Linked DNA regions of Homo sapiens. The protein of the gene in region 2 purifies or fractionates together with the protein of the main gene of each other region. This does not show direct contact. Each region holds a gene or a part of one and is shown on either strand. Other genes may lie near its edges.

Region 1 (4,345 bases), on a different chromosome or scaffold from region 2:
GCTCACCGTCCTGCTCTGAATCCCGTGGTGCAGGCCACCCCCCTTCAGACTCAGCCTTAGGTGGACAGGCCCGTACATACTCAGGACCCCAACCATCACCACCAAGTCCACCTCCCTTCCACCTCTGTGAGTGGCATCACCAGCTACAGCGTTCCTGCCCCAGACCTAGCTGCTCTCTGCCCTGCCTTTCTTTCCCACATCTGCGGCCCACATCCCGTGGCACTGTGTCCAAAACCGACATTGAATCTGATCCCTTTCCATAATCTCTATGGCCACAATCCCAATCCAATCCCCTAAAACCCCCTGCCTTCTGAAGAAGTCTCCTGATAGCACCCCCACCCCCCCCCAGCACTTGTCCTCTGCACTCTTGTGACCACACTGCCATCGGAATGATCTTGGTACAGGGACAATGAGATTATGTCACTCCTCTACTGAAACTTTTCAAGGGCTCCCTGCCCCAACTAGCACAGAATCCACACTTCCTCTCAGGGCACTCAAGGTCCCTCCTGATCTGGTTTCCCACCCCAGCCACGTCCTCTCCTCTCCCCTTTATTCACCACCCTGAAGCCACACAGGCCTTCCATCCCCTGAGGGAACATGCCAAGCTTGTTTCTACCTCAGAGCCTTTGTCAGTTGTGATGGGTTGCATTGTGTCCTCTTAAAATGCGTATGTTGAAGTCCTAAACCCCAGCACCTCAAAATGTGGCCTTATATATAAAAACAGAGTCATTACAGAGGCAATCAAGTGAGACTGAAGCCATCAGGGCGGACCCGCATCCAATGTGGCTGGCGTCCTTATGAAAAGGGGGATTTGAGAGACAGTCACGCACACAGGGAGAACACCATGAGAAGATAAACGCAGAGATAAGGGAGATGCTTCTACAAGCTAATGAGTGCCAAAGATTGCCGGCCAGCCGCCTGCAGCTAAGAGAAAGGGACAGACCAGATTGTCTTTCACAGCCCACAGAACAAACGAACCTGGCCACCACTTTGATTTCAGACTTCCATCCTCCAGAACTGCGAGACAATGATTGTCTGTTCTTTAAGCCAGCCCTTTTATGGTCCTTTGTTTCAGCCATCTTGGCAAACTGCTGTTCCCAACACATCTGCACAGGCTAGGGCACGAGTTTGCCATTTGACAGCACATCAAGCCCATTCTTTCCACCTGACAATCTTCATCTACCTTGTTTTTCACTGCCTGGGTGATATCCCATTGTTGGTCGTCTCATAATTTGCCTGACCATTCCTCCACTGATGGAGAGTTACAAGTTGCTTCCCACTTTTGCCACTAGAAATGACATTACCTCTAACACTCGCTGTGTGAAGACATGCTGAAGGAAATGCCTCGGCCGCCTGGCACGCCCATCTAAGATGCTGATATCTGCCAGCAAATGACTTTCCACAAAGACTCACCCGTGTACCCTCCACCAACCCATCCATGGTGCCATTTCCTCACACACTTGTGGCCCCTGAGCATGATTATTCTTCTGATGAGTGACCAAAGATAACCAGGTTCCTTGGTTCTGGATTACTTCTGATGGAGGCTGAATGTCCCCCACAGGGCCTGGCCACTTCCATCGGGATAAATGGCTACAGTGAATGTTTGCCTCTTTTCTGCCGCCCAGTTTCTTAGCCAACCCTTTTCTCGTCATCACCACAAAATCACAACAGACGCCAACTGTGTGTATGTGGAATCCCTAGTAGGAACTGATGTAACTGAAAAGGCAAGAAGGGGGTTGAGTCCCCTCCTACCTGGTGCTGCAGAGAGTACCTGCTTTACGGCCAGAGGAGGAAACACTCTTCCACTTAGCTTCTTTACCTGCACAACAAGGAAGATAAAGAGGAAAGGTCATTAAGTGCAAGACAGCAAAGCTGGTTAATGGCCCTAAGAAGGTCATGTACTTAGCAGGCATTGGAAACCAAGAAGAGCTGGGAGGCCTGGTCTTATCAGTAACACACATGTGCACATCACAGTTTGGTTCTGCTAATCACAGCAGTGGGACCCTCCGCACCTGTCTGGGTCAAGGACCACAGGGTGCACCAGCCCGCAGGGCAGAAAATCATTTCACCATGTTGAGCAGCATTCTTGCAGCCAAGCATGCTCCATTCGAAGGGAGAAAAATGACACTTCCCCTCCCATTGTCACGGGGCGAGTGTTTGGGACTCTAAATCCCATTGTCCTCAGCTTAATTCTGGGTAGGTCACGCTGAGCACGGCGCCACAGGCCACAGAGCTGTGCACCGCCCGGCCTCAGGTCCAGGCGAGCTCACAGCAGAAGGGCCAACGGGAGGCAGGGAAGACCGGACTGAGGTGGGGCCGCTGTGTGTGGAGCAGTACACGGGCTTTCTACTCGCAGACGCACGTCGCGGGTACACGCGCTTAGAAGGAGCGGAGCCGAGACCCTGCCGACAGCAGGGGACAGGAAAAGGCGCCTCGGTCGCGCCCCGCACGAGTTCCCAGCCCCACATCCAGGGAAACCCCAGCCCTCAGGTACCGTCCGCAAGAAGGCTGAGCACACAGGCTCCCGCAGCATGGGCCCTGGCACCTGTCAGCCCCGGCAGGTCTCACGGCCTCCGGAACCATGGACCCTGCGAGTCGTGGGTGTCTAGGGCCGACTCCGGCTTTTCGCCACAGGAATGAACAGTCCTCTGCTTCCCCGAGACCCAGCGAGGCCACCGGAGCCAGGACGATGGGCTCCCAAGCAAGGAGACGTGGGCCGCTGTGAGAAGAGGGAGCGCCTGGCTAGTGTCCAGGCTGCAAGGTCGTTGCCGCTAACTCCGGGAAACCAGTGGCCAGTGACAGGTGTTAGCGGTCTATAACTCTTCCGCTTTCATACAGCTCCCGTCATCCCTTTCACGAAGAACGTACGTGGGCGCGCAATCACGCATGTATGCACACCACGCACGTACGCGGGAGGCACGTACTCAGCCATGCATATAGACAGCAAACATTATGAATCTCGCATTCTCGAAGACACGCACTGACGACATCACGCACGTACGCACGCCCTGGCTGCTAGGAGACGCTATTCTCTTTACCTGGCCCTGATGCGCGCCAGCCAACCAGGCCAAGGCCAGGGGACCTCGAGACCGGCAGCCTCGACGAAGAACCGGAAGGAGGAAAAGGAACGGGAGGGAGGAAGAGTAAGTGGAAGGGTGGGACGAGGACACCAGGCAGGAGTTTTGGGCCCAGAGCTGCTATACCAGCAGGGAGGAGCTGGGAGAAACCGCTGGGGAGGGGGTGGAGGCGGGGCTGAGAGGAGGAGGGCGGAGCTGGGGGAGGGGCCGAGCGGGACTGACAGAAACAATTGGGGGCTGGGTTGAGGGCGGGGCTGAGATAAGAGGCGGGGTGTGGGGCAGGGCCGGGCGGGGCTGAGAGAAACCATTGTGGGCAGGGCCGTGGGAGAGCTGAGCGAGGAGAAGCTGCAGGAAGAGCTCGCGGACTCTTGAGAATCAGCAGGGGGAGGCAGGTGTCCGCTGAGAGAAGGAGGGAGGGGGAGAAAGAAATCACTGGGAGGGGCTGGGGGCGGGGTTTTTAAAGCAGCTGCGTGAGAAGTAGGGCGGGGCTGGGAGAGGCGGGGCTCTGGGGGGGCTGAGAATGCTGGGGAAGGTTTGGGGGCGGGGCTTTGGAGGCAGCCACAGGAGAAGCAGGTCGGGGCTGCGGGCGGGGCTCGGGGTGGGGCGGGGCTGAGAGAAACTGCTGGGGAGGGGGCCGAGGGCGGGGCTTTGGGAGCAGCCGCGGGAGAAGCGGGGCGGGGCAGGGAGGGGAGGGGCGGGGCAGGGAGGGGCGGGGCTGAGAGAAACTGCTGGCTGAGGTCGGGGCTTTGGAAGCAGCCCCGCGAAGAGCAGGGCGGGGCAATGGGAGAACTGAGCGAGGAGCAGCTGCGGGAGGACCCCTCGGACTCCTGAGAACCAGCTTAGGGGAGCGGGGGCTTGGGGAGGTGTAGGGTGGAATCACGAGAAAGCTCTGTGGGAGGGCCTGGTGCACAGCTCAGCTGCAGCGTGGAGCTGAGGGAAAGCCGGGCGTTCCTGGAGGAGGAGCAGGGCGGGGCTGTGGCAAAGAGGTGTGGGAGCAGATGGGGCGGGGCTGCGGGAAATTGCTGGAGAAGGGGGAGCCAAGCTGGAGTAAGGCTGGCGGGTGAGAATGGTGGGGGAGGAGCTAGTGCAGAGCTGGAGGAAAGAGCTGAAAGGTGCTGGGGTGGGCAGAGGGGTAGGAGAAGCGGGACGGGGCTAGAGGAGGCGGAGCTGGGACTGGAGATGCAGGGTGAGCAGGGTGGGGCTGCAGCAGGAACTGGGTTAGAGCTTCTGGAGGAGCCGCCTGCAAGAGGAGGGCGTAGTTGTGGGAA
Region 2 (4,445 bases):
TGGAGTTCTACAGGCTAGTGGGTGAGGGCCAATCTTGCCCTACTGACACTCAGGCTAGGCAGCCACTCAAAAGGGAAACAAGCTCTCAGGAGAGAGGACCCTTAAGCACTGCCCTTGGGTGGAAACAGGATTGCCTTGGGACATCTGGAGGCTCAACAGCAGGAAGGTTCTCTGGACCCTCCATCATCAGCACAGCCCTCCTCCTACCTTCTCCTGGGGCAAAGCCGGTTCCTGGCCTTTATCCCTGATGAAGCCTTGAGTGTGTGTGTGTCGGGCAGAATTCTGTCTACCCTTCGACTGGGAGCTCCAGGAAGACAGGGCTGTGCCTCTTGGACTCTCTTGGGTATCCCTGGTGCACAGTCCAATGTTTGGCACAAAGTTAACACTCAGTATGTATCTATTGAACGGATGTCTTTGGACACTCTCAGTGGACTAGAGGTCTGGGATTCATCCCTCATCTTTTCTTCCTGCCAGTCATCCTGCTTGGCCCAGTGTGACTGCCGCCTTCTGGGCAAGCCCTCCAGTGGAGCCCTCTGTTTAGATCTCACACCCTACACTCCGCTGCCCCCGTCCAGTGCTCGCCCTCCTCCCCCGCAGCCACCCGCTCCCGGAGTGGCATCAGCGCAGAGCCGCGGCCTTGCCTGGCGGTGCGTCCTGCCCTCTGCAGCCCGGGAGGGCAGGCGCAGCAGAGTCCCGCGCGCAGTGGGTTCTCAGCTCACCTGGGGGCGGAGGAAGTGAGCAAGAGTCCTCCAGACTGGGGCCAGGGGGCCAAGGCAGTCCTGGGAAAGGGGGTCTGGGGCGGCCCGCGGACGGGGCGGGCCCAGGCCGGCTGCCTTCCCCTTTGCCCTTCGACCCAGGAAGCCGCCCACATCCAGCGGACACGCTCGACGGGCTGGGCTGCTCAGTCCCGGCCTCGGCCCCGTCCCCATGCCGTCCCCCACCCCTACCCGCCGGCCCGACCCCCACCCCAACCCCAGCTTCCCGCTCCGACGGCCGGGAGAGGCGGGGCGGACGGGTCTGAGAGTGGCGAAGGACACTCTCCACACCGAGGGTCACTTGCTCTTTTTTCCCCTCTGTGGCTAATTTATTTTAGAGCCAGGGGCGGGAGGGGGCGGGGCCAGCCGGGAGGGTGGCAAGGAGGGGCTGGGCGAGCCCAGGGGAGGTGGGGGCGGGGCGGGGGCGAGGTGGGGGAGGGCGGGGAAGAAGCCGGGGGTGGAGGGGCCAGAGAAGGGGCGGGAGCTGGGGGAAGAGAGGGGCACTAGGAGAGGGAGGAGCAGGGAAAGGGGAGGGGAGGGAGGGCCTGCGAGGGAGGGCCCTGGGGGCGGGCGAGGGGAGGCGGGGGTGGGGGTGGGGGTCTTTCCTGCGGGGGGAGCCGGGGCCGCCCCTTGTCCGGCCACCCCCACTGCCCAGTCCCGCTCCCGCCCGCGGCGGCCGCAGCAGCCGCAGCAGCAGCGGCTCCAGGATGGTGAGCGCCACTGCCCCCCAGCCCAGGCCTGTCGCCCCCGGCCCGCGCCGCCGCCCCGGTCCCCGGGCCGGACGCGCCCCCAGGCCGCGCACACTCACCTAGGACCCGGCCGTGATGCCGAGGTACGGGGCCGCGGGCGGGCCGGGATGGGGCGGGGGGAGGTGACCGTTCGGTCAGGGTGTCCGGAGCTTTGTCCGCCGGCCCGGGGCCGGAGAGGGCCGAGAGGGCGGGGGCTGCTAGTCGCGGGGTTCAGCTCGGCGGGGGTCGGAGGGCAGGGCCGGCGAGAGACCCTAGCGGGTACGTGGGAGCCGAGGGTCACTTCTCGGGGGGAGGGGGCGGGCAGAGCAGGGGATAGCCGCCCGGCCGCCGACGGGCACCCGTCTCGCAGCCCCCTCTGGTGCGGGGGCTGCAGCGAAAGCGAGCAGCCGGCTCGGGGGCGTCTGCTGGCCTGGGGGTGGGGAGCCAAGGTTTGCGGGTTCGGGTCCCAGAAGGATCCAGCGTCCGGAGCCCGAGGGCCGGCCCGCAGGCCCCTCCCACTCCGTCAGGTCTTTGTCCAGCGGCCCCTGTGTGTGTGTGTGGGAGGGGTGGGGGCTGGGTTACTGGCCCGGAGATTCCCCAGCATGGTGACGGGGCAGTGACAGGAGGCCGAGGCTACTTAGGGTCCCCGCGCCCCTAACACCCACCCTCTTCATGTCTTCTCCTCTGGCCCGGGAGAACAGAGCCCGCGTCTCAGAGTCAGGGGGTTGTAGGAGGCTGTACTCACCTTCACCCTGGGGCTACAGGCAACAAGGGGGACCCCCGGAGCGCCCAGCTCTCCAGAGAGGGCCCCTCAAACTTCCCCACCGCAAGAGCCCTCTCCTGTTCTACACAGAGATTCGCATGCTAGCAACCCCCCCGCCGCTGCAGAGGGTCCTTCGCAGATTGCTGAGCACCCTGTAGGTGATCAGCAAATGCTGGTGCCCTTCCCCAGCCCCGCTGGTCCCCCTGCCCCCGCCAGAGGAGGAGGCCTGGGAAGGGGTCTGCGCGGGGCAGAGAGCGCGCGGCCTGGACCCTGCGCCCAGCGGCGGCCCGGAGCGCAGGGGTGGGTGGACGGGTGGGTGGGCTGTTAAAGGGACGGTCACTAAATCAGGATTAGGCCGTAGGGCTGTCAGGCTGCCGGCCCTGTCTCCATGGATACCTAATTTGGAGGAGAATAGAGGACTGAAGAATGTTTGTGTTGTCCGCACGGGCTGTGGCGGCGGAGCGGTCTCCTGCTTTCCGCCCGGCAGCGAGGAGTGGGGACCCGGTTCCAGCCCAACTCTGGGCTTACGGCGCAGGTGGGCTTCCCGGTTCCTGGGCCGTGGGGCCTCCCCTGTGGAGCCGCCCAGTCTCTGGAGTGGGCTGGGCCCGCAGATGCCACGGTGCGAAACCCTCTGACCCTGCAGAGGGAGTCCCAGACCCTCCCGGAGCCTACCCCGAAATCCCATAGCATCCTCCTAAAGCCTCCCCGAGCCTCTCAGTCCGGAACCGACGCCATTCCCCGCTGTGCCTGAGCCCCCAAGGACGGGCGCGCCGGGCTGCCCGGTGCTGTGGTGCCGCCGCCACCCAGCTGTGGGACGCGGGTACCGGGCGGCCGCGCGAGCTGCGGGCAGGGGGCGGGGCGGGACTTCCTGGGGTGGGCGAGGAAAGGGGCGGGGCTTGCTGGGGTGGCTGGGCTGGACGGGTGACAGGCCTCGTAAATCCCCTTTCCCATGTTTAACACCATTTCATTTCTTTCCACTTGATTCCATTGGCATCCAAGGCAGACGGGAGCGACCCTCGTGTCCTCGCTGTAATATCTTCTGGGCGAAGCCCTTTTGGGCCAAAGGGAATTAGGCTGTGTGGGGCAGAGGAGTTGCTCCTGGGGAGGCCTAGAGGACCCGCATTCCTCGGGGGGATTCCTGTTGCCCCCACCCCCGCCCCAGAAGAAGAAACAGAAGGGGCTGAGAGACACAGAAATGAGTTTGGCTTCGGAGGCCCTGCCCGATTCTCTGGCCGTGGTATGGCTGAGGGCTGGGCTGAGGATCCCGTAACTGTCAATTCCAGTACCAGCCTGGGCGAAGGCTGGGGAGAGCCACCCAGACTGAGTGTGGCGTCGCAGAGCCCTTTCCTGCCTTTCTTCTGCTCACCCATGGCCACAGCTTTTTATGGATCAGGACTCCCCTCCCTGCCCTGCCTGGGCCGCAGCTTTATTGCTGAGATCTAGGGCTCTCTCCACGCAATTTCACGCCTCTCTGCCTTTGCTCCCGCTGTTCCTCCAGCCAAATGCCTTCCTCATTGTCCCTGTCTTTCCACAACCTCCTTATTCTTCAGGGCCCAACTCGGATGCGCACCTCCTCCGCATCACCTCCCCAGCCCCGAGCTTCTGTCACTTGCTCCTCCCTCCGTGGCCTGCACCTGTGCTCCCTTCCGCCTTTGTGGCGGGGTCCACTCAGGGCTTTGACTGAAATGGAGCATGTACTCCCTGGCCCTGCCCCCAGTGGGCTTGCCACAGGGCTTGACACCTTGTGGGTGCTCCATAAATATTGGTTGGCTGAATAAAAGGGGTTTTGTAAGGGCCTTTAGCCAGGCAGTCTGCATAGCATGGAATCTGGCCACCTTCAGGTAAACAGCTCTGTGCTCTTGGGTGGTGGAGACCCCTGGGTGGGGCTCCTCCTCTCCCTTTCCCTTATTTGCCTCCTTCTCCTCCCCATGACCCTACCCCACCCCCCCAAGTCCGGGGAGGACTTTGCCCCTTCCCTTCCCCACAGACCAGCATTCTTTCCCTGCCATTATCATTCTGTTAAACAGAGAGGCCAGTCAGGATCCATATGGATCACATTAACAATTGCTTATTATCTGGGCCAGGACTCCCCCGACTCTCCCCCCAAGCTCCGACTGCTGCCATTGCTGGACCCTTAGGAGCCCTGCCTTCCCCTCCCCCTGCCGTCGGTCAGCCAGGGAGGGCAAGAGACAGGCTGGT

What was found.
Region 1: the proteins of FIGNL2 (region 2) and EOLA1 purify together in Homo sapiens (affinity purification with mass spectrometry; one large-scale study listed by BioGRID and IntAct). This does not show direct contact.

What each region holds. Positions count from the first base shown.
Region 1 is NC_000023.11:149,539,493-149,543,837, reverse strand, and holds the start of EOLA1 (protein EOLA1), read right to left. Parts: upstream 2,827-4,345; 5' UTR 2,534-2,826; coding exon of another isoform or gene 2,495-2,533; exon of another isoform or gene 2,101-2,494; coding exon of another isoform or gene 2,013-2,100; intron 1,820-2,012; coding exon of another isoform or gene 1,753-1,819; intron 277-1,752; exon of another isoform or gene 1-276. UniProt on the Homo sapiens protein: May play a role in cell protection during the inflammatory response. In epithelial cells, negatively regulates IL6 production and apoptosis through the regulation of MT2A expression.
Region 2 is NC_000012.12:51,845,682-51,850,126, reverse strand, and holds the start of FIGNL2 (fidgetin-like protein 2), read left to right. Parts: upstream 1-1,408; 5' UTR 1,409-1,587; exon of another isoform or gene 1,588-1,904; intron 1,905-2,546; exon of another isoform or gene 2,547-2,672; coding exon of another isoform or gene 2,673-2,781; intron 2,782-4,445. UniProt on the Homo sapiens protein: Microtubule-severing enzyme that negatively regulates cell migration and wound healing. In migrating cells, targets dynamic microtubules (MTs) at the leading edge and severs them, thereby suppressing motility.